2 separate regions of the Homo sapiens genome follow, and region 1 is linked to region 2. The links come from fine-mapping of genetic effects on gene expression. A gene starts in region 2. The other region holds a variant in brackets. All regions are shown on one strand. Distances are from middle to middle. Region 1 overlaps TGFBR3 (transforming growth factor beta receptor 3). Region 2 holds the start of TGFBR3 (transforming growth factor beta receptor 3).

Region 1 (11,769 bases), 200 kb before region 2:
CTGAAAATATAAAAATTAGCTTTGGGTGACACAATGAGACCCTGTCTCAAAAAAAAAAAAAAAAAAAAGAAAAAAGAAAAAAGCAAGTCACAACTGTTATAATCCAATTTTTTTTTTTTTTTTTTTTTGAGACAGGGCCTTCCTCTGTCACCCAGGCTGGAGTGCGGTGACATGATCTCAACTCACTGGAATCTCCACCTCCTGGGTTCAAAGATTCTCGTGTCTCAGCCTTCTGAGTAGCTGGGATACAGACGCATGCCACCCCGCCCCGCTAATTTTTGTATTTTTAGTAGAGACAGGGTTTCACTATGTTGGCCAGGCTGGTCTCGAACTCCTTACCCCAAGTGATCCACCCACCTTGGCCTCCCAAAGTACTGGGATTACAGGCATGAGCCACTGCACCGGGCCATAATCCAATCTTATTTAATGACATGGACATGTTGATATGAATTAAGGAAACATCTGGGAACACATACACTAAATCGGTATTCTTATATTCAAGTTGGAGGATTATGGAGGCCTTTTCATTGCTACATGTCTGTATTCTTTGCATTCATTTTATATATATATATTGTGTGAACAAGAAAGATAATTTTTTCTTACAAAAAGCCTATGGACTCTCACCAAAAACAACAGCCGAGACATAGCTGCAATAAAATCCTACATACAATTCCAGCCACTTCACAGACTCTCTGAAGCCCATTTATTAATCACCCAGGTTTTGACTCCAGTAGACACAAGGAGAGTTTAATGGCAAAAAAAATTCATTGACCTGCCAATTACTCCCACATATCCTAAGAGGAGCTGGTTGCAGGGGGCACCGTAGCTGTAAAATGGAGCTTAACACTGTTCCGGCTCTGTGGGTACCCACCTGTGTAACATGTGAGGGATGGGCTGCTGGCCTTGATGCCAAATCATCTGAGTCACTAAAAATCTCAAAAGGGGAGTGTGGCCTGTAAATGCATATTCAATGCTGTAATGTAATATTTGATACTGAACGAGAACTTTTTTCATTACAAATTTGTCTGGGGGTGAGGATGCCAAATAGAACTGAGCTCCGGAGAGGTGAGAGAAGTAGCTGGGAAAGCAGGCAGATTAGCCTCCTCGGAACCATGCTTAGGAATCTGAACTGTATCCTGAAGGCAAATGGGGCAATTACCTAAAGGCCTCAAAATGGAGTCTTTTTAGGATTACTTTGGCTGCATGGTGGAGAAAGAATTGAAGGGAGCAAAATGGAAAGTCGGCATACCAGTTAGGAGGCTGCTGCAGTGACTCAAGAGACAATGGCTCTTGAGCAGTGTGTAACAACAGTCAGAGTAGGAATAAGTCAGTGGTTTGAAGAAAGAGACATTTTAGAGGTAGAATAACACTCGGACTTATTGATTTGGGAAGAGGGGAGCCAAAGAGGCTGTAGTTAGATTCCCAGGTTTCTGGCTTGGACAACTGGAAGACGGTGGTACCATATGGAGATACGGAATGCTGGAAGCAGCAATGGGGTATTTGAAGGGGCTGAAAATAGTAGACCTTAAATGTATATTATGTTTCTTTCTTTGACTCTGGGAGATTGACAGAAGGCCCAGGAATGGTTTCCAGGGTGAGACACCCACTTCCAAGTCTCCTGCCATGTTTTTCTGAGAAGAGCGACAGCTCCTGCTGCACTCTTCTTCTAGTCCATCCGCCCTTCCCTCTGCTCTGGACCTCTTAGCCTTTCTCCTCCCACTTCCTCATCAACACGGAGCAGACGATCCATTCAGGAGAAAGTCACAGTGAAAAAAGTTACATGAGCCTTAGGGTAGAATTTAATGATAACAAGACACATATTAATAACTGATATATATCTTTTTATTATGCACAGATAAAAGATTTAAAACTGTGGTTATCAAAACTATACATCTAAGCATCTTCACAAAATAGCTGACACACTGAACAGAGAAAAGAATACAACAGGGGTGTTCAAACTGGCCACAGGGATTTTAAGGGTACTCGTTTTACCCTCATAGATGATGAAAACCAGCAACAAAATCAGGCTCATTCAGGAAAAACCAGAAGAGAGAAGTATTGTATTTGGAAACTGATAATAGTCCTTTTTAGAAAAACATCTGTCAGTTTCATGAACAACCCCCAGATAAAACAAACATGAAAAAAATCACATAGGACTCACCCAACAAAATGTGCTCTGTTAACACAACCAGCAGTACAATCATCATTCAAACCATGAGGTAGTTACAGTACAAAAAGACTGGCACGCGTGTGAGCACCCCACACACACTCACAATCATGCCCACTAAGAACACAAGCAGGAAATGGATTTACAATCTTATTACAAGGCAAAGAAAAAAACCATTTTTTTTGTTTAGAAAATGCTATAGAAACAGTTTAGACAGAAGAAATCTCTGGCTTTTTAAAATACAGAGTAACAGCTGGTAAACACCACATGGTGAAAAGCTATAGCGTATTATACAGACAATCTGCCTTGGAGTTTGGGGCATTTTAACAACAGCTTCAGCATCAAACAAACAACAAAATGGCCTCTGCAAATTAAGGGTGTAGCCTGCAGAAATAACAAAAGACTGCAGATACAAGAGTTCAGCTGAAATACAACAATACTTTTAAAGAAACTTGTAGTACACGTTATAAAAGTAGAGCTTGTACTTTGTATTAAAACTGTAAAGTGTGAAGCAATTAGAAATACTGTAATGAGAAGCTAGGGAGAAAATACCTTATTTTTTTCATGTTCATTTTTTAGAAACATTTCAGAAATACTTAACGACATTCACTCTCCAATATGAGATTAGGTTTTATCGACACAGATTTCTTGATCTGAATAATAATTCTGACAATGAGACCCAAACAAATAAAAGGTGATTTTTTTCCTCTCTCTCTCTTTTAAAAAGATCTTTTGGTTTGCATCTATAAATTTGTAAATTAATTTTAAATTATTTATAAAATCATTGGCAATGTAGCATCTCTCTTAAAAATATATATTTAAATATATTACAGAAGGTTTTAACCCTGTCCTTCTAAGACATCAATCTTTTAATATCTCCTAATAGCTAATTTTCTTTTTAACACGATGGAAAAGATTTTTTAAAAAAGCAAAGGACTGATCGAAAGAATTCACAGTAGCTGAAATTAAACATTTCATATGGAGTAACTTAAATTTATCTAAAACACTTAAATATATCTTTATACACAAATTTTGTAGTAAAATATAGCTATAAGTGACTTAAAGACTCTAGTCTTCTTTGAAGACATCTTTAAACTTTTTTATACATAGAATATGCTGAAACAATACATTCCACCGAAGGTTAGGCAAAGCGCAATATTTTCAAACACAGGTAGCGTAATCTAGGTCCTCCACTCTGATACCCTTCTGTTAAAAAAAAATTAAAGGAAAAAAATTCTCTAAACTCATGTCTTCTTCGTTTGTATATGGAAATCTAGAAATTTTTCAGTAGATCAATGTAGATAGCCTGGAAATCTCAGCCCTAAAGTAATGTTTTAGTTAAAATGTTCCTTATTGAAAAAAAAAAATGTTCCTTATTGAATGTGTATATCTATCAGGTAAGTCATATTATTACTCAACGATTTGGTAAAAATGATTGTCAATTTCCACATACTTGTTTCCCATGTAGACACTGCCCTAAGGTTTTAAGCTTCATCAGGATTACCTACTGAGGTTCCATTCACAGACAACCAGGCATAACTTCCTTATTTTAAGGGCAGTGGGATTTGCTTATGAATATTTTGGGGGTAGAATCTATCTTGTTCTACTTATGGAATTCTAAGTTGTTTGGGGGAAATTCTGGAAAAAGAATAATTTGCAATGAAGCTATCTTCAGCAGTAAAATAATTTAGCATGATAATTCCCCCCTGGCATTCTTTTTTTTTTTTTTTTTTTTTAACAAGGAGGTATCACTGAGCTTATTTTAGCTGCAAAGTGGCATCATATTATTCCATTTAATGAAATTCACCTCAAGCCCTTTTTGACATATTAAATATATGGGATATATTTAAGGCAAGAGAAGTAAGGCAATCCAAATGAGTGCCCTTTTCCAATCTCAGCACTGTCTTGGTGGAATTGGTGACACTATTCAGATAACCAACTGGAGACCGACAGGATTTGCCATGCATTTGCATCTTGCTACAGTTTGGTTTTTATGAAAGGGCCTATTTTTTTTTAAGTTGACATATTTTGAGTGGAAACACTCACCCTACCAAATATACTTAAGTTGCAACTCTAAAAGCATAAGGACATTTTCAAATTTTCTCTTCTTCAACTGAGAAAATGAATGTGCCAGGTGACATATTATATACTTGTACTTGCATACACATAGAAATATATCACTGTGCAAATTCGTCCTTGACTTTATAACTGAATTTCACCTCAAATTATACATTAATTTGCAGAACAAAATATTAGGAATGGGCACAAATCTGTGGTTCCTGATTTTGGTCATTTTCAATTTCTGTAGGCCTGTAAGAAATACAAAATTTGCATTAAGACATTTTGCAGTGGTGTATGCAAGTATGGGAAGAAACAGGAAGCTGATAAGGTCATCAGCATTGGTTTTGGCCCAGGGCACAAGAAAGGAATGTTGCCTTAACACTTGTCAGGGTGCAGTCCCTGAGGGCAGCACCCATCAAGGGACACATCAGACCCCACAGGTTGTGGCAGCAAGGTCAGAAGTGTGCATCCAGACAAAGGTGCAAATTAGACAGGAGGATCGCTTAGAAAGCCTCAAAGCATTTCTTGTTTTACATCTTGGTTCAGATATAAAGAATCTTTGGCCGCATCTCCTCACTGGTTCTACTATCTGGCTATTAACCCTTTACCAACTCCTTGAGTCTGGGTAAAACTCAGGGCCCCAAATTATGGATGTTCTCACCTGGACAAAGCAGCATTTTAAAAACTGGCATGTGTTTCACATTGAAAACCCCCAAGCCTGTGAGGGGCTGGTGGAGAAGACCACCATTTTAGCTTTCTCACATGAATTCTAGTGTGGTACAGAAGCCCAGGGTCATGTTTATACTAGCCCTGGGTGTGGGGTGAATACAACGGGTGATCTTTATACTGAAATTCACTCTGTCTTTACAAGGGAACCAAAATCCAGCCCTCTGAGTCTGGACACGAGGCTCAGCCATTGGTCCTGCCCTTGGCAGTAGCTGAGCTGAGCTGGGCTGGGCTGGGTTGGGCCGGGTTGGGCTGGGTTGGGCTAGGCCGTGCTGCTGCTGGAGCAAGGCGTGCTCTGCGTGCTGCCGATGCTGTGGGCAGCACTGCTGTTTTCCGAGGCTGGCGGGGAGGTGGGGACTTGCTGCCTTCCTGCTGTCTCCCCTGCAGTTAATAAAGAAAAGGCAGAGTCAGAGAAAGACGCATATTATGTATGTGCATTCCTGAAAAGATCATTTATTCCGCATTTGCCATTTTAACTGATATTTTTCTCAACCAGGGCAGAAGCAACTAGACTAGGTCCTAGATGGCTGGAATACCTTCTAAAATAAGGTTTTGCTATTTGTTGTTTTATTTTTAAAGCATCATGAATGGGAAAAAGAAGACAGCTGACTGACAGGCAGCTCTAGTGGCTAAGACCCCTGAGAGTTGATGACAAAGTCCCTGGATTTCAGGGTCCACAACCTTTGATGAAATCACCACCACTTGGTCTGTGTGAGCTGGCAACTGACCAGCACCTGTATTCAGGAAACACTGTCCATCTTCTCTCATAAAGACACTGTAGGATTTGGAGGGTGTGACCTTTCAATTGTAGTTAAGAGAACCCTGGAAGTTTGGGAGCCTTGTTCTGAATGCACTTGTTAAAAACAGGAGTGAAATATAGACTTTGTCCTAGCTACAGTAGAGAGAGCCTTGTGTGCCAAACAGATAAATTACCTGAGAAACCGGGGTGGGGGATAGCTGCTATTGGAAAAACCTTTTGGGGAAGGGGTTTAGCTGTTTGCACATGGGGACTGCAGTTGCCAGC[G/A]AATGGCCTCTCTTCCCCACTGAGGTTCCCTGTGGGGTGCAGTGTGAGTATCTCCTAACACTTTAAGCATCCCACTTTTCATTACACACCCCACTGCATTTTAGCTAAAGCCATTCATCGTGCCAAATGTGCAGTGCTTTGGAGAGGAAGGAAACCTCAAGTCACACACATGGTTTGCATTTAACAGTGCAAAAGGCCCTAGAGTTAGTCTTCTCTTCGGCAAAACCGGCCTCAGTGCAACCCTCAAAAAATGGCTCTAGGTAGGGAAAAGCGATCAGGGCTCTCCAATAAAAAACACTGCATTTACTTTGAAAAGTCAGAGCATAAACTTCATAAACTTCTTGTAAGCAGCATCCCCTCCTTCAATGTGGGAAACCCCAGAGGGCCAGGCCTGTTTATGAATGAGCCTCCTCTTTCCTGTCATGCTGAAATACACATCTATCAGCCGGAGATAAGCAACCCTTCCAGCTGCTTCATTAAAACAAAACACTCGAGGAAAGGCCCTGCCCTCCAGTGCAGGAACTTGGCCCCATTACTTCCATTCTCTTTCTGGGGCCCCTCAAAAGCCTCTGTGAAAAAAGCAGTTCTGCAAAATGTAGAACTGGCTCATGTCCCTGGGTCTGGTTACAGCTTTTCCTGTCACCCCTTTCATGAACCACACAGCTATACACACTTTTGCATCAACCTCAAAGTATTTATGTGCTTGTTGTAAGTTTGGCCCTTGTTGTACTTCCTCTAATTATCTTTTCTTCTGGGATTGGCGGGATGGATAGGGGACTGGGGTCAATATTCCTGAGAAGCGGAGAAGCACTGCCTTTTTTTTTTTTTTTTTTTTTTTGTGAGACGGAGTCTCGCTCTGTCCCCTAGGATGGACTGCAGTGGCATGATCTTGGCTCACTGCAACCTCCACCCCCCGGGTTCAAGCAATTCTCCTGTCTCAGCCTCCCGAGTACCTGGGACTACAGGCATGTGCCACCATGCCTGGCTAATTTTTTGTATTTTTAGTAGAGACACGATTTCACTGTGTTAGCCAGGATGGTATCGATCTCCTGACCTCGTGATCGGCCCACCTTGGCCTTCCATAGTGCTGGGATTACAGGCGTGAGCCACCACGCCCGGCTGAAACACTGCTTTTGACTTTTTTGGAAACCTATGTTTTGGACCCTCCCCAGCACTGCCCTCTACTCTTCATGTGTGTGTATAATTAAGGCTGGGGAAATTAGCCTCCATGGCAATAACTTTCTGCCAAAAATTCACTTTCCCCAGAGTAGGAGCTTTATTTCTAGAAGGGAATCAAATCTCTTAACTATTCTGAGGTCAAAACAAAAACAACCTCCAGAGACCCAAACAACTCTAGATATACTTTAAGAATTTGACTCCCTTACAAACCACATGTTGGTCCATACCCAGCTGGATCCTCACATAATCAATCAGAAGGACTAATGTGGCTATGCATGAACCACATTTTAAAAATATTTTTTCCTATTTTAATAAGGATACATCTGAAAAGCAGGAGGCCAACTCCATCTTTTTCTTTTTTGGCTCACCTGGGCTTTGTTTGCTCAGCCCAACAGCAGGTAAAAGAGAAGGCCTTGCTTCATCAAGCAATAGGGAGCAAGTGTGCTCCTCCAGGATCTGCCCTGTGCTTGATTATTCACATTCAGGAAAAGTGCCAGGACTATGCCCTGCCCAGGAAGCCTGAATATCTGCTTTCCGATGTCTATTTGCCAAATATAATTTGTTGCCATGTCAGTTTATTTTCATCCGTGCCCATTAAAGAGACCTTTCAACTTCCCGAGTTTTGGGAACTCTTGTTCTGGTAATGCAAAACACTTCAAAACAAAACCCCAAACAAAACAAAGAAGCCTCCGCACTCAAGACTGCAGGATGCATCTCACCAGCTGGATAAGTCAAGTTAACCTAATATTATATTGACTTTGATCCAATAATGGGCCAAGGTGAGTCTCTGTCTGAGAATCTGCTGGGAAATATTGAAAGTCCCCTCTTCAGACCATCCTTTCCAGTTCTGTGGCTATTTTCACATGTAAGATGCAAGGTTTCTCAATATAACCATGTTTTAAAAATAACTCTTACCTTTTGACAGATTAAGTTTTTTCACTGTCAAATGGAAGTGATGCTACAGAAAAATTCACCATGAGGAAGAAAGTTGAATGTACAGATGCTTCTACTTAATGGGCCAACAGAGACCCCTGGGTTTTCTGAGATGGGTCTTTGGCTGTCTGCTCTCCACTGCAGTGGTCTCTGATTTCGTGGAGCACCAACTTTCTCTAAAACATCCCTTGGGTGACAAGTATAACAAGGCTGCTCCTAAAGGAGATGGGCAGGGAGGACCTCGTGGCTAAGCAGACTAGGCCCAATTAACACATCTAAGAAATTCAAGGAGGGCGCCTTGCTTGTAAATAAATATCAGACTTGGCCAGCAGAGGAAATGTACTCAGTCTTCCTGCTTTCCTCCTAAAATATCAAACCACATTGAGGGAACAGAGATTTGAGAGGAGGGAGAGTGAGTAGGGGAGAGAGGAATTTGGTGCCTGACATACTCTGGAGGAGGAGAGTACACTGAGGATAAGGACACTAAGGATTAATTCCACCCATCTCACAGTTAGCCTATGGCTGGGCCTAGATACTGCCAGAGATGCCTCAAGAAATAGAAAAACAAAGCCAGGTGCAGTCACTTACAGTGCCAGCTTAGGAGGCTGAAGGGGGAGGATCTCCTGAGGCCAGGAGTTAGAGACTGCAGTGAGCTATGATCTCACCTGTGAAGAGCCTCTGCACTCCAACCTGGGCAACAGAGAGAGACCCTGTCTCTACCAGGGGGAAGAAGAAAAAAAGAAGCAAAAACAAACAAACAAAAAACATTTCTTAATGGAGAATGTTTTATTTCTTTAGCATGGCATGGAGTTGCCCAGATCTGACTTCCTGCTACCTCTTTGGCGTCTATATTACAACTGTATTCTTATTTCTAAGTCTTTCACCATGGCAGGTCCTGGGGAAGAAACTATTCAAGAAAGATGTGAATAGCATGGGAGGACTCTGTGGGGAAACAAGAGAAGAGTTAAAAAGAAAGGTGAGGGCAAGCTTGGTATTTAGGCCAAAGGAGACTATTGCAAATACTCTCCATGAGGATTATTACAAATAGGAGCAGACAGCTGTTCTTTATCTCCCTGGAGGGCAGAACATGAGGAAATGAGTTTAAATGGCAGGACTAGGGATTTAGATCAGATAGAAAAGAACTTGCTGATTATGAGGATTGGTTAGTTATAGAGGGAATTTATGGAATCTCCTTCTCAGGAGATATTTAAGCACAGGATTGAAAACCATATACCTGGGGACACTTTAGATTTAATATTCCTTGATGCTAGAAAGAAAATAAAGATATTTTCTTCTAGATCTACGTGTTGGATGCGATTTTCTATCAATTAATGTCTCAGTTTCTTGATCTCCTAACTGTAATTAATTCACAAGCTCACTCTTTAAGCAGAGTGAACGATACTACCTTTAATTTAGAGAAGTCTTCAATCACTTTTTATCATTTTCAAATTTCATTCCTCCCCAGCCTCCACACAAAAGACTCTTCTTTTGCAGCAAAATTCTCCAGGAGGGGTGAGTTAGATGTTGTTAGAAGTCACGGGGAAAAGACTATATCAAGAATTAAAGTTTTTCACAATGTCCTGCCTACTACTTTCTTTCTATATTCCTGCAGTGTGGCCAACCTGTTTGTATATGGACTTTGGTTTTCTGTGGTATCTTCCCTGCCTTTGTGGCCCCTGAATAGGATGCAAAATCTGATAATAACTAAGAAGAAGAAGAAAAGCAAGAGGGAAAGAGAAATCAGGTGGAGGAGGAAGGCTGTCCTCCACAGCTATCGCTACAACCCTGAGTCAGAAACTGGACTTGAAGCTCTGGTTTGTTCAATGGCTAGACTTGCTACCTTAGTAGGTATATTAGTTGTGTTTCCCTTTAGTCAACACAGAGATAATCACTACTTCACAGGGTTATTAGGGTGAGCGTACTTAAAACAAGAAATGCGTAATAAAAGCTTTTTCAACTTTAAGGCTGCTCTGATGTGTAAGCAGAAAAAAAATCTAAGCGTGTAAGGAACACTGTTTCACAGAGCATAATAAAATGCTGAAGTTTTGAATTAGGTGTGCCCGTCCCAACTCATCAGGCAGTTTTCAACAACCCTCCATGGAACACACCATGTGTTCTTAAAGCAAAAGTCAAGCGCATACCCAAAAGTCCACCCAAGTCAGGTAAGAGGTTTTCATTAGAAGTAGCTCGGGAGGTGCCAATGTGTTCAGAGGCCTGAGGTTTCTCCAGGTTCCCAAGTGTAGCCCGATGAAAAGAGAAACAGCAAGCAGACAGACTAAGGTGTGATAAGGTAGGAGGCAAGAGACCAAGTCCCAGGGATCAGACAGATGCAGCTGGAACAGACGGAAACCCCAATGTGACTGTAAAGAAGGCAGGCTCCACTCTCTTTTCACTCAAATGCCCATATCATTATTTTATAAAACCATTAAACACAGAGGTTAAGATGAATGCCTTCGGCTTTCCTGGTGTCTATTGGTGTGTCTTTTTCTCTCAAAAAACAAAGCACCTCCCGGAGCATCTGGCCATTCATACCCTTCCCCCTTCTTCTCACCCTCCCCTCAGTTTCCATAAAAGGTTAATAGAAAACTTAATTCTTCAGATTAGAAACACTTCTTCTTTCTCCAGTGAGACTTCCCTTGTCAGTTCTCCATTTTTCTGACACAGTTCATCAGGTCATTGCTTTCCTAAAGGTTGGCATGTGTGCCTGTAGCTGGGTTTCTGCCTGAGCCAATCTGCTTATAATCAGTCTGTTTGGTTATTCTCTTCCTCTGAATATATGGGAACTCCACGACAGCAAGGACTTTCTGTTGCTCATGGCTATTTTACCAGTGCCTAGAATAGCGTTGGCATTTAACAATAGCTTAAAAAATCCATTGAATAAGTTGAGTGAAAGAACGAATACATGAGTGAACAAACCAAAAAAATTTAGCTGACACTAAACAGAGGCAAAAAGAAAAACCGAAACACATGTTAATTAATGTTTATTATCTGATAAGCAGAAGGAGGATAAAAAGATTATGGCTACGTGACCTTTGAATTTGTAATAACAGAACAGGAAGAAAAGAGTGAACTCTGAATCAAGAAAGCAAGCCTTCAGTCCTGGCCGCTGTGCCTGGGTAACTTTGAGCTTGTCACATCAGTTCTCTGGGCTCAGTTTTCTCGCTACGTAAAAAGGAAATGCTGATGCAGACTAGTAATTTTCCAAGGACTCCCTTTAAGAAACTGATTAAAAAAAAAAAAAAAAAAAAAAAAGCAAGGGTACGACTTTGCATAGAGATAGTGCATTTAAAGGCATTGACTTGCATTCCTTTCCCAAATCTTACCAGAATGACAGTAAATGGACTTTTAAAGGCATAAACACATGAAAACAAAGATAACAAAAGTAAAGATAACAGCAATAAAATATATTGGAAGCTGGTGAGGAAATGGGTGAGTAGCAACTGACTTGGCAGACTCAAGAGAGCCGAAACCTAAGCCAACAGTGGGAAAAACTGAGAAACAAGCAATTTATGTCGCCGAACCCTTAAAAAACTCAGGGAATGGTGGCATCAGGCACCTCTGGAAACCTCCCTTGAACATATGGCTATAAGCAAGAGGGGTTGGCTGAACTATATGAGAAGCAGAATAGTTCTCTACATTTCCTCCCTCGCTCCACTGGGCTGAGATCTGCCCTTCCTAA
Region 2 (11,769 bases):
CGAGACCAGCCTGGACAACATGGCAAAACCCTGTCTCTACTAAAAATACAAAAATTAGCCAGATGTGGTGGCCCCCGCCTGTAATCCCAGTTACTTGGGAGGCTGAGGCACAATAATCGCTTGAACCCAGGAGGCAGAGGTTGCAGTGAGCCAAGATCACACCACTGCACTCCAGCCTAAGCAACAGAGCAAGACTCTGTCTCAAAAAAAAAAATAACCATTAAAATCTAATTCTAAAAATCAACTTTGCTAGGCTCTACATATAACTGAATCCTCTTCCCAGGATGGAAGAAGATTTCAACATAAAAGAACCACCACCACAAAAACCAGACATTAGGCTCCCTGCCCTGCCCCCCGACACCAAAAAATTATCTTCAGCAGGGCACATTAGGATGGCCTGAAGGCATGGTTCTGGGGCTCTTGTTCTAGACCTTCCATTTTAAATATGGTCTCTATCCCTCATAAGCAGTTGTCAGCCTATTAAGTCTTCATCTTTGGCCTGAAAAACTGAAGAATAAAAAATGAAGAATAAGTTCCAAATGACAGTAGCCTCATGCAGAATTTATATCAATGTTGTTTCAAAAACACATTTTGGTTGAGAGAGCAAGACATCAAAATCATTATTCAAGTGGGGAGGAAGAATGCTTGGAAATTTGTGCTGATTCTTAAGCAAGGACTTTGCAAGCAGAGAAAATAAAGCTCAATGTCAGTTAACAAACAAATGTGCTATTTCAAAAGATATAAAATAAGAAATCTAGAAATTTTATATTCCTAGATTTATTTATTATATTTCTATATTTCCTGGACAGAGCCCAGGAAATGAACCCAGATCCTTCTTGTAAGGCCCTTCCAAGCTGTGTTGATTTATTTCAGCTTGACTAGACACTGAACAAATTAGCAACAGCTTGTGTTTTATGACATGCTGCAAAGAAACAATGCTATCATTCCAAGTGTTACTCTGAAGATGCAGAACCAGAGAAGTTACTGCTATGGCTCTTGGTACACTTAATTTTCTTCCTACAGAAATGCCCTCACTCAATCTGCTGAAGGCTCACTATTATGTGTTTAAGGTTAGCTTTTCATATAACCTAGATTCACTCTTAAATTCCAAATTGCTTATATTCCTAGTGGCAATACAAGACTGCTTTTACATTAAAGGCCCCTAAAAACATTTATCTAACTCAAGTTATGCAAATTTCAAAAAAGTTAACATTTTTTAAATTTACAATTGTTTTAAATAAGTTTAAAAATATGGCCGGGCGCGATGGCTCACACCTGTAATCCCAGCACGTTGGGAGGCCAAGACGGCGGATCACGAGGTCAGGAGATTGAGACCATCCTAGCTAACACGGTGAAACCCTGTCTCTACTAAAAATACAAAAATTAGCTGGGCGTGGTGGCGGGCGCCTGTAGTCTCAGCTACTCGGGAGACTGAGGCAAGAGAATGGCGTGAACCAGGGAGGCGGAGCTTGCAGTGAGCCGAGATCGCGCCACTGCACTCCACCCTGGGTGACAGAGCGAGACTCCGTCCCAAAAAAAATAAAAATAAAAATAAAAATATAAGAAAAATGCTCCAGTAGACTGATGGAAATGGCAATAAAATCACTTTTAAGTAACTGTTAAGACTGAAAAAGAAGACTGTCCTTTAGTAGCTAATAAATCTGACAGCCAGGAGCAGTGGCTCATGCCTGTAATCCCAACAATTTGAGAAGATGAGGCAGGAGGATCACTTGAGCCCAGGAGTTCGAGACCAGCCGAGGCAACATAGTAAGACTCTGTCTCAAAATATATACATATTATATATTATACAATATATAGTTATAGATTATATATATGTGAGATTTTACATATATTTACATATTTTATATGAATAAGTATATAAATAAAAATAAAAAATAAATCTGACAATTACAATTTTTATCCAACAGCAATGAAAGCACCACAAAAAGATGTTTCAAAATGAACTATCAAGAAGGGAGGTAATTCAAAATGACCACAGAGCAGAATCATCCAGGCAAAATATTACAGCAAAGTTATTACTTACACAGTCACAGTCTAAACTCTAACTGTTCTGTCTGTTAAGCTTAAAATGTAAAGTCAGGACCTTTCACAGATTTTTGAAGCCAGGAAATTGGTCTTCACTTATATACTAAAGAAGTCAGCAGTGATCACCTTCTTAAAACTCAAAGGACAGTTGAGTTCCCTGGGCTCTTAGGCTCAGATTCTGCCCTCAGAAAAACAAGCACTCACCTGACTTTTACAAGTCACAACCAAGTTTGCATGCAAGAGAGAAAAATTAATTCTTTTGAGTCTTAAAAACAATGGAACAACACTTTCCTTCAAGCCAACGAAAGGCTTTCTGTAAGAAAGCCCTAAGCAACCTGAAGGCATTTTGGCCCCCAGTCATCAGAGCACTGAATAAGGACAATTAATTTGCCAAGCTCCAAGACCAGAAACCATAGCCTAGTAGGGAGTAGGAGGTTATAAGTGTTTGTTGAATTACTCGAGTAAACTAGAGCAAAGCATAGAAGACTAAATGAGATCCTAAATAAATGCCACTCTGTAGTATAAGCGCAATGCTAAGATTTAAAAAGAAGGGACTCAACTAATTTTGAAAGTTATTTTAAAATAGGATCCATGGGACCCTAACGTAGTAAATGAAATAAAGGTAAATCAATACTACATAATATGGGGCCGGGCACAGTCGCTCACGCCTATAATCCCAGCACTTTGGGAGGCCGAGGCGGGTGGATCATGAGGTCAGGAGATCAAGACCATCGGGGCTAACACAGTGAAGCCCCGTCTCTACGAAAAATATAAAAAATTAGTCGGGCGTGGTGGCATGCACCTGTGGTCCCCGCTACTCGGGAGGCTGAGGCAGGAGAATCTCTTGAACCTGGGAGGCGGAGGTTGCAGTGAGCCAAGATCACTCCACTGCACTCCAGCCTGGACGACAGAGCGAAACTTTGTCTCAAAAATAAATAAATAAATAAATAATAAAAAAATACTACATAATACGCAAGAAACAAGAAAGGAAACTGGCCTACAAAACTACAGACAAAAATTGAAAACCTTTTTTTTTTTTTTTTTTGAGACAGAACCTCGCTGTCTGCCAGGCTGGCGTGCAGTGGCACGATCTCAGCTCACTGAAACCTCCACCTCCTGGGCTCAAGGGATCCTCCCACCTCAGCCTCTGGAGTAGCTGTGATTACAGGTGTGCACCACCACGCTCAGCAAATTGTTGTATTTTCTGTAGAGATCAGGTTTCGCCATGTTGGCCAGGCTGGTCTCGAACTCCTGACCTCAAGTGATCCACCTGCCTCGGCCTCCCAACATGCTGGGATTACAGGCGTGAGCCACCACACCCAGCCAAAAACTTTTTTTAAAAGTCAAGTTTGGCCAGGCACCGTGGCTCACGCCTGTAATCCCAGCACTTTGGGAGGCTGAGGTAGGCGGATCACAAGGTCAGGAGATCGAGACCTTCCTGGCTAACACGGTGAAACCCCGTCTCTACTAAAAATACAAAAAAATTAGCCGGGCATGGTGGCGAGTGCCTGTAGTTACAGCTGCTGGGGAGGCTGAGGCAGGAGAATGGCGTGAACCTGGGAGGTGGAGCTTGCAGTGAGCTGAGATTGCACCACTGCACTCCCGCCCGGGCGACAGAGCGAGAGACTCCATCTCAAAAAATAAATAAATAAATAGATAAATGTCAAGTGTGATTTTTTCAAGCATATTCTTATTGTTTATGTTTACAAGTATGAGTATTCATAGACACATCACACTTATACTAGTATCAAATATGATACATCTGAACTACTACTATACTTGAATATTAACGTAAGCCTCTGAGGAATTCACAGTAATAGAACTGCTGTTATTTAGGATTACTGATCCCCTATTGTCTTGCACTTAGAAGATGTTAATGAAAGATGATGACAGGATTGTGAACACACCAACCTCCCTGAGAACAAATTCATTATATTCAGTTTTCTACAAAACACAAATGAGGATCATTACAAAAGGATTCACAACAAATTCCTCTGGATTTCCATTTCTCCCAGGTAAGTTGAAATATTATTCAAACCACACAAAATTAGTTTACATACAAACTTCACTTTTTAAAGAGATGGGGGTCTCACTATGTTACCCAGGCTGGTCTCGAACTCCTTGGCCAAGTGATCCTCCTACCTCAGCCTCCCAAAGTGTTGGAATTACAGGTGTGAGCCACTGTGCCTGGCCTACACACCACTTAAGGAAACAAATTGAAAAAAAACTATATGTGTGTTTATCTATCTGTCCAGCCACCATGGAGTTCTTGACATATATTCAACATACAGGCCCTGTCCTCAAGGTCATTCTTAATCAGTTCAAATTAAATCTAGTCCTCCATTATAAACTCCAAAAGCAACTTAGTTATTTTGCTAGATATTTTGCCCTCCCCTTTCAAACTATATGTTTAATACTCTAAAAACGGGTTTATGCGCCTTATAGATATCAACAGTGTGTTATGCTCCCCCTATTGACTAATATTCAAAATAACAATGAACTCCCCACGGGTTGCCTTTGAAGTGCTGGGATTCAAAACTATGTTGGTGATTTTTATATTTAAAAACATGAGCTGAATCAACAGTTGTTAGGCAAAGCTGCCGTGTAACGGTCAGATTCCATCAAAACAGGAAAAATTAAAGTTGACAAATGTCAAACTGAAGGGCCAAAAAAAAAAAACGCTCAAGCCTTGAAACACTAAACAATGCAGAAATAAAGCCAAAAGCAAAGAACAGCAAGAAATAGAGCAACATCCTTTAACTGACACAATGGCATGAAATCAATTTCATGTTAATAGCCCTTAAGGGGGTAAGAATTATTTCCCTGCCTCCTGTGCCAACCCCAAGCTGTTTCCTAAGGAAGCCAAGTAATGGTGATCAACAATGTCTGGAGAATTAATAAAAGAAATTAAGAATAAAGATCCATGTTGGCCAGGCGTGGTGGCTCACACCTGTAATCCCAGCACTTTGGGAGGCCGAGGCAGGTGGATCACGAGGTCAAGAAATCGAGACCATCCTGGCCAACATGGTGAAACGCCGTCTCTACTAAAAATACAAAAGTTAGCTGGGCGTGGTAGCGCGCGCCTGTAGTCCCAGCTACTCTGGAGGCTGAGTCAGGAGAAACTCTTGAACCCGGGAGGTGGAGGTTGCAGTGAGCCGAGATCGCACCACTGCACTGCAGCCTGGGGACAGAGCGAGACTCTGTCACCAAAAAAAAAAAAAAATTTCCATGTTAATTAATACAAGTCAGAGTTCTATTTATAATTATTTGGGGCCAGTTTCAGAGGAACTTTAATTGGGCACCCTCATAAGTATGTAAAATCGCCTAAATTCATCACAGATACCTTATGTGTGTTTCAAGAGATATGCGTTCAGCTCAAATAGAAAGCTGAAAGATGGGAGAAGATGCATGGACTATGCACACAAATCTATGTACACACAAATCGGCCTGCACTTGCCGCTCTCCGCTGAGGAAGGAAGGTAGCTTTGGAGTCAGAACTAACAGAAAGTTATGTATGATCTTGGACAAGTAACTTAACCTCTAGTGTCTTATCTGTAAAATAGGGTTATTAATAGTGCTTTTCCCATAGAGATGCTGTGAGGATTAAGTGCACACAGTATGGGCTTAGAAAACGTTAGCTGTTATTATTATCCAAAAGAAACAACTGAGTTCACACTGAAGTAACTGTTTGCACTCTGCATTCAGGAAGAAGAAACGGTCTTGACGTGTGTTTTTACTACCTGTGGAGACTTCTCCCAAACCGCTCACTTCTTCGGAAGGACATAAAACTCAGAATACGCCTGGTTCCCCAGCACAGCCTGTCACTCCTACTATCCTCTGCCCTCGCCGCTCCTATCCTGCCACCGCAGGGCTAGCGGCAAGCAGCGCTAACCTCCGTGCGGTGCTTACTCGGTGCCAAGCACTGTTGTAGCACCTCACACACATTAAATCATTAGATGCTCACAGCAACTTTACGGGGCAAGTACTACTATCCTCACTTCACAGCTAGGGAAATGGAACGGTTTTCTTCTTCCAGCTTTTCGTGAGGACACCAAATCCACTAAGTTCTACTTTGCCAAGGTAATTCATGCTTGACACGTCGGCTCCTGACACTATGCGATTCTGCAAAGCGGGGCAAATGCCCTAATAAGATCAAGTCTGCAAGCAGATTCTTCTAGCGACAGTCCAAGATTTCCAAGTTTGTCCTAACCAAATGAATACAAGAAGAGAGCCTTCAAAATAAACCGGGGCGGGGGGGGGCCGAGCTGCAGCTTGCGGCTCAGCCCGCAAGGCACCCTGAGGGCGCGGCCAGCGGGGAACGCAAACCGCGTCCGTGCACGAGTCCGGGAGCCACAGCCTGGGCCACGGCAATTGACTGCGAACCCACAACAAACCATTCCCACCGAAGCTGTCACGCGCCCGGAGGGAAGTGGCCGCCGCGCCCCGCAGGGGTCAGAAGGACCCGCGGAGAGGAAGAGTGAGGGCGGGCGTGGAGAATTCCTCCCCAGCACTGCGCATCGCCGGGGGCACTGCCTGCCCCGTGCGGCCGCTGCCCACGCACCGCTGGCCACCGGTGCCTGCTCCCCGGAGGGTAAACACCGCCCCACCAGCGCCTCCCTCCCAAGGCCGGAGGTCCTGGCGGCTGGAGCGACCCTGGCCGGTAAGTAGGCACTGGCAGCCCGCGCCGCGCCGACGGGCACCCGCGCAGCCTGCAGAGCCCACAGCCCGGGCGGGCTGCAGCGCCGCGGGGCTGGGCCGGCACGTACCTCGGAGGCGGTGTGTCCAGCGGAGATCCACCCGCAGCAAGTTGGAGGAAAGCGGCGGCAAGTTTCCCCGCCCAGCGCTCGGCGGCGGCGAGCTCCGGCAGCTGCTGCGCCGCGGCAAAACTACGCCATCCGGACCCGCTGGGGACTCTCACCTCCTGCAGGGAGCTCCGGGAATCGCGCAGGGAAAGTGGCCGGGGCGCGAGAGCCGCCGACTGCCCTCCTTCACTCGCTGGGAAGAGGAAAGTGCCGCTCGGCGTCCCCGAAACCCTCGATTACCCCCATCAGGCCGACCCGGCGCACTCGCCCTCCCTCGCACACACGCGGGCGGGGACGGGCAGGACGCCACAGCAATCAGCGCGCGGGGGGAAGGGCGCTCCTCCGCCGGCCCCACCGGGGGCTCTCGGCCGCCCAGAAACTCCTCCTCCCGCCTCCCGCCTCCCGCCTCCTCTCTCCTCCCCCTTTGCCTCCGCGGCTGATGGATGAGCCCCGAATGCTGCTCGAGCCTGTGCTTCCCTTCGGGACGAGGAGGCCGAGAGAGAAGGGGCTAGGGGCGCGGCCGGGCTCAGCGTGCCCGGGTTGGGGCGGCCCCTGTCCTGGGGGAAGCGCGAGGGAGACGTGGGCACGAGCTGCGGGGACTCGCTCCCTCAAACGAGGTCCTTTGAACTTTCCAGGGCTCCCTGGAAGAGTTGGATTTTCATTTGGTTCCTTGGTCTTTATATAAAAGTTCTGAAACCTCAGATAATCTGATCACAGCCTCTTGCCCTCTCCCCAGCAGAGCTCCCCCATGCACACATTCATTCTGTCCCTGTGCTTTTTCCCAACCTCCGGTCCCGCTTGTTGTCACGCTCTGATGGTGGGCGCCGGCGGAGTCTTGCCTCTTCCCCTCCAGCAGCTGAGACTGCATTACCCAGCCGTTCCCCCTGCTAGCTAAATAAATTAATACAAATAATGGAGCTAGGTCAGCATTACCGGCGTTACCCGGAGGTGGGCGCGATATGAACGACAGTCTCGGCGGGGCAACGTCCTAAGTACCTGTGCCTGTGCGACGTCCTAAGTACCTGTGCCTGTGAAGTACACGCTGCAGAAGTTGAACTGCTGGCACCAGAACACCACTCTGATACTCTTGCTTACACCCAGTTTTTCTTATTAAAAAGTATACTTAAGTAACAGGACATTGTTTTACAAACAGGCAGGTGAAATGACCGTGGACTGACAGGTTTCAAAGACCAGACTTCCAGTCCTGACTACTGTGCGACCTTCCACAAATGGCTAACGGCTAATACCCGTCAAGGCTCAGTTCAAATGAAGGGCTTGGCCTAGAAGGCTTCTTCCAGTTCTAAAGGGCTATGGACCTATGCCTTTTTTTTTTTTTTTTTTTTTTTTTTTGAGATGGAGTCTCGCCCTGTCGCCCAGGCTGGAGTGCAGTGGCACAATCTCAATCTCAGCTCGCTACAACCTCCGCTTCTCAGGCTCAAGCGATTCTCCCACCTCAGCCTCCTGAGTAGCTGGGATTACTGACAAATGCCACCACGCCCAGCTAACTTTTTGTATTTTTTGTAGAGGGGGTTGGCAGGGCGGGGGTCTCACTTAGTTGCCCAGGCTGGTCTCAAACTCCTGAGCTCAAGAGATTCGCCTGCCTTGGCCTCCCAAAGTGCTGGGATTAGAGGCGTTAGCCGCTGCACCTGGCTCAATCCTAGGCTTTTAATATGTTGGAGAGTAGAATGAGGAGGCTTCTTATGACATGTTATTTGGAAAGTTATTGAGAGAACAGGAAATATTTCTCGTCCTCTTCCTCTTGTACCTATAGGCAGAGAATCCACCCAATTGCAGAATTGGAGATTCATTCACAAAGGTCAAATGTCATCAGTCACCTGAATTACTGCAAAAATCTCCTCACTGAACCATTTTTTTCCTTACCAATATTCATTGAGCACTGACTATGGGAGAGCCCTGAGTCAGGCATTGGGAATACAAGTAGGCATAATATTCTGAAGGAATAAACAGTCCAGATGGAGCTAGCCTCTGCTTTTATAAAGTCTAAGTTTAAGGCCTTAAGATTTCTCCTAGACTCAAATTAAACAGTATTTGATATGGTTTGGCTGTGTCCCCACCCAAATCTCATCTCGAATTGTAAGTCCCACAATCCCCATGTGTCCTAGGAGGAACCCAATGGGAGGTAATTGAATCTTGGGGATGAGTTTTTCCTGTGCTGTTCTCATGATAGTGAATAAGTCTCACGAGATCTGATGGCTTTAAAAACAGGAGTCTCCGTGTACCAGCTCTCTCTGCCTGCTGCCATCCACGTGATATGTGACTTGCTCCTCCTTACCTTCTGCCATGATTGTGAGGTCTCCCCAGCCATGTGGAACTGTAAGTCCAATAAACCTTTCCTTTGTAAATTGCCCAGTCTCGGGTATGTCTTTATCAGCAGCATGAAAACAGACTAATACAGTATTTATGCCTTGTTAACAAGTTTTAGTTTCAAGTACAGATGTGAACACTTGAACTAGGTGTGAATATTTAATCCCACATTTAAATGCATCGGCCAGGTGAGGTGGCTCATGCCTATAATCTCAGCAATTTGGGAAGCCGAGGTGGGTGGATCACTTGAGGTCAGGAGTTCTAGACCAGCCTGACCAACATGGTGAAACCCCATCTCAACTAAAATACAAAAATTAGCCAGGCATGGTGGCGGGCACCTGTAATCCCAGCTACTTGGGAGGCTGAGGCAAGAGAATCGTTTGAACCCAGGAGGCAGAGGTTGCAGTGAGCTGAGATGGTGCCATTGCACTCTAGCCTGGACAAGAGCAACACTCTGTCTCAAAAAAATAAAATTAAATTAAATGTATCAATCATGTTAAGGCCTTCTAAATAAAATGGCCTGGTAGATAATTTAGGAGTGTCTTGTCTTTAAAGAGTGATGAAGTGACTGGTCCCCGTAGAGCCAGATTCACAACAGTAACCATCAACATCTGAGCCAGCGTGGGTACTGAATTCTTTTTTGTTTGTTTGTTTTTGTTTTGAGACAGAGTCTCGCTCTGCTGCCGAGGCTGGAGTGCAGTGGCGCAATCTCAGCTCACTGCAACCTCTGCCTCCTGGGCTCAAGCAATTCTCCTGCCTCAGCCTCCTGAGTAGCTGGGATTGACAAGCACGCACCACCATGCCTGGCTAATTTTTGTATTTTTAGTAGAGACGGGGTTTCATACCATGTTGGCCAGGCTGCTCTCGAACTCCTGACCTCAAGTGATCCACCCGCCTTGGCCTCCCAAACTGCTGAGATTACAGGCATGAGCCACTGCGCCTGGCCATGGGTACTAAATTCTATACATATAAACACATTTACTTCTCACAGCCCTCTAAGAATATGTATAAATGAGGCCGATATACATGCCTTTATACAAACTGAGATCTTGTCCACGATTCAATCTCACATCCACCGACCTCAAAACCTGTCCACGATTCAATCTCACATCCACCGACCTCAAAACCTAAGTCCTTAACCACCAGGTTCTTCTACCTGTCATCAGAAGCTTTATAGACTGGCAAAATAAAAGGGCTCTTTTTTTTAATTCTGAGCTATTTAGTTTCAGTAGATGATATGGAAAAACACAAGAAATTACATCAGTATTTACAAAATTAACAATGTCTACAGAGATGTTTTCTCTTTAAATCTTTACAATATGATATTAAAAGCAGAAATCCAGATACCTCAAGCATAGACGAAAGGTTTAAAATAAACTTGAATTTTTGGTTCCTGAGCAAAGCTCTATAAAAAAGGGTTCCCCTACCTCTTTTCTTTCTTTCTTTCTTTTTTGAGACGGAGTTTCCCTCTTGTTGCCCAGACTAGAGTGCAGCAGCGCGATCTCAGCTCACTGCAACCCCCACCCCCACCTCCCAGGTTCAAGTGATTCTCATGCCTCAGCCTCTCAAGTAGCTGGGATTACCAGCACCCACCACCATGCCTGGTTGATATTTGTATTTTCAGTAGAGACAGGGTTTTGCCATAACTCCTGACCTCAAGTGATCCACCCACCTTGGCCTCCCACAGTGTTGGGATTACAGGCGTGAGCTGCCGTGCCCAGTTGCCCAACCTCTTATTAATGGCAATATTAACTGATTTCTAAGGGAATGGATGCTCCCTTTCACTAATTTCTCATGGAGAACTGCATTCAAGCTACAGTATTTGTTACTGTAAGATACCAGCTTTCTTTTGGTCCAAAGTGGTTTCTTGGTCATTTGTTTGGAATTGTTTCAAACAGGATTGTAAGCAGGGGGGTGAAATTGAGGTGCATTACTTGCATTAAAAATGTTTGCCAGCAGAGTTTCAGTGATTTACTGAGGCTGTTTTTCATACAAGGAACCACCCCTCCTGTAGGTGTGGACTCACATGTTGACAGTGACTCAGATTTAGTGGCATGTCTCCAGATTCTGTTGATTAGCAGTTCACAGTCTGCTAATCAGACTTTCTTTAATCAGATAAAGTCTAAAAGACTTTATCATTAGAAAAATCATTTGGTTGTTTCTCTATAATCTTTTTTTTTTTTTTTTTTTTTTTTTTTGAGACACAGTTTCCGTCTTGTTGCCCAGGCCGGAGTGCAGTGGCGCCATCTTGGCTCACTGCAACCTCCACCTCCTGGGTTCAAGTGATTCTTCTGCCTCAGCTTCCCGAGTAGCTGGGACTAAAGGCACACGCCACCACGCCCTGCTAATTTTTGTATTTTTAGTAGAGACAAGGTTTCACCATATTGGCCAGGCTGGTCTCAAACTCCTGACCTCGTGATCCACCTGCCTCAGCCTCCCAAGGTGCTGGGATTACAGGCATGAGCTACTGTGCCCAGCTATTATCCTCATTTTACAGATTAGGAAATGATGCACAGAGAGGTTATGTAACTTGCCCAAGGTCACACAACCAGCAAGTGGCAGAGTCAGGTGGCCTGGCTACAGAATCCGTTCATGC

The links. PIP is the estimated chance that this variant, and not a neighbour inherited with it, causes the effect.
Region 1: its variant is fine-mapped to the expression of TGFBR3 in whole blood (INTERVAL, PIP above 0.99).

What each region holds. Positions count from the first base shown.
Region 1 is chr1:91,678,523-91,690,291 of GRCh38, forward strand. It overlaps TGFBR3 (transforming growth factor beta receptor 3), which reads right to left. Exons shown (of 17, transcript NM_003243.5): 17 at 1,821-5,335. The coding sequence ends at 5,217. Among named protein-coding and RNA genes, the nearest start is that of CDC7, 180 kb to the left of the region's middle. RefSeq lists enhancers at 5,234-5,737, 6,217-6,296. The variant G/A (reference allele first, on the strand shown) is at 5,979.
Region 2 is chr1:91,879,066-91,890,834 of GRCh38, forward strand. TGFBR3 (transforming growth factor beta receptor 3) reads right to left here and starts at 7,086. Exons shown (of 17, transcript NM_003243.5): 1 at 6,813-7,086. RefSeq lists enhancers at 5,894-6,657, 6,658-7,420 and silencers at 6,563-6,772, 6,783-6,862, 7,213-7,352.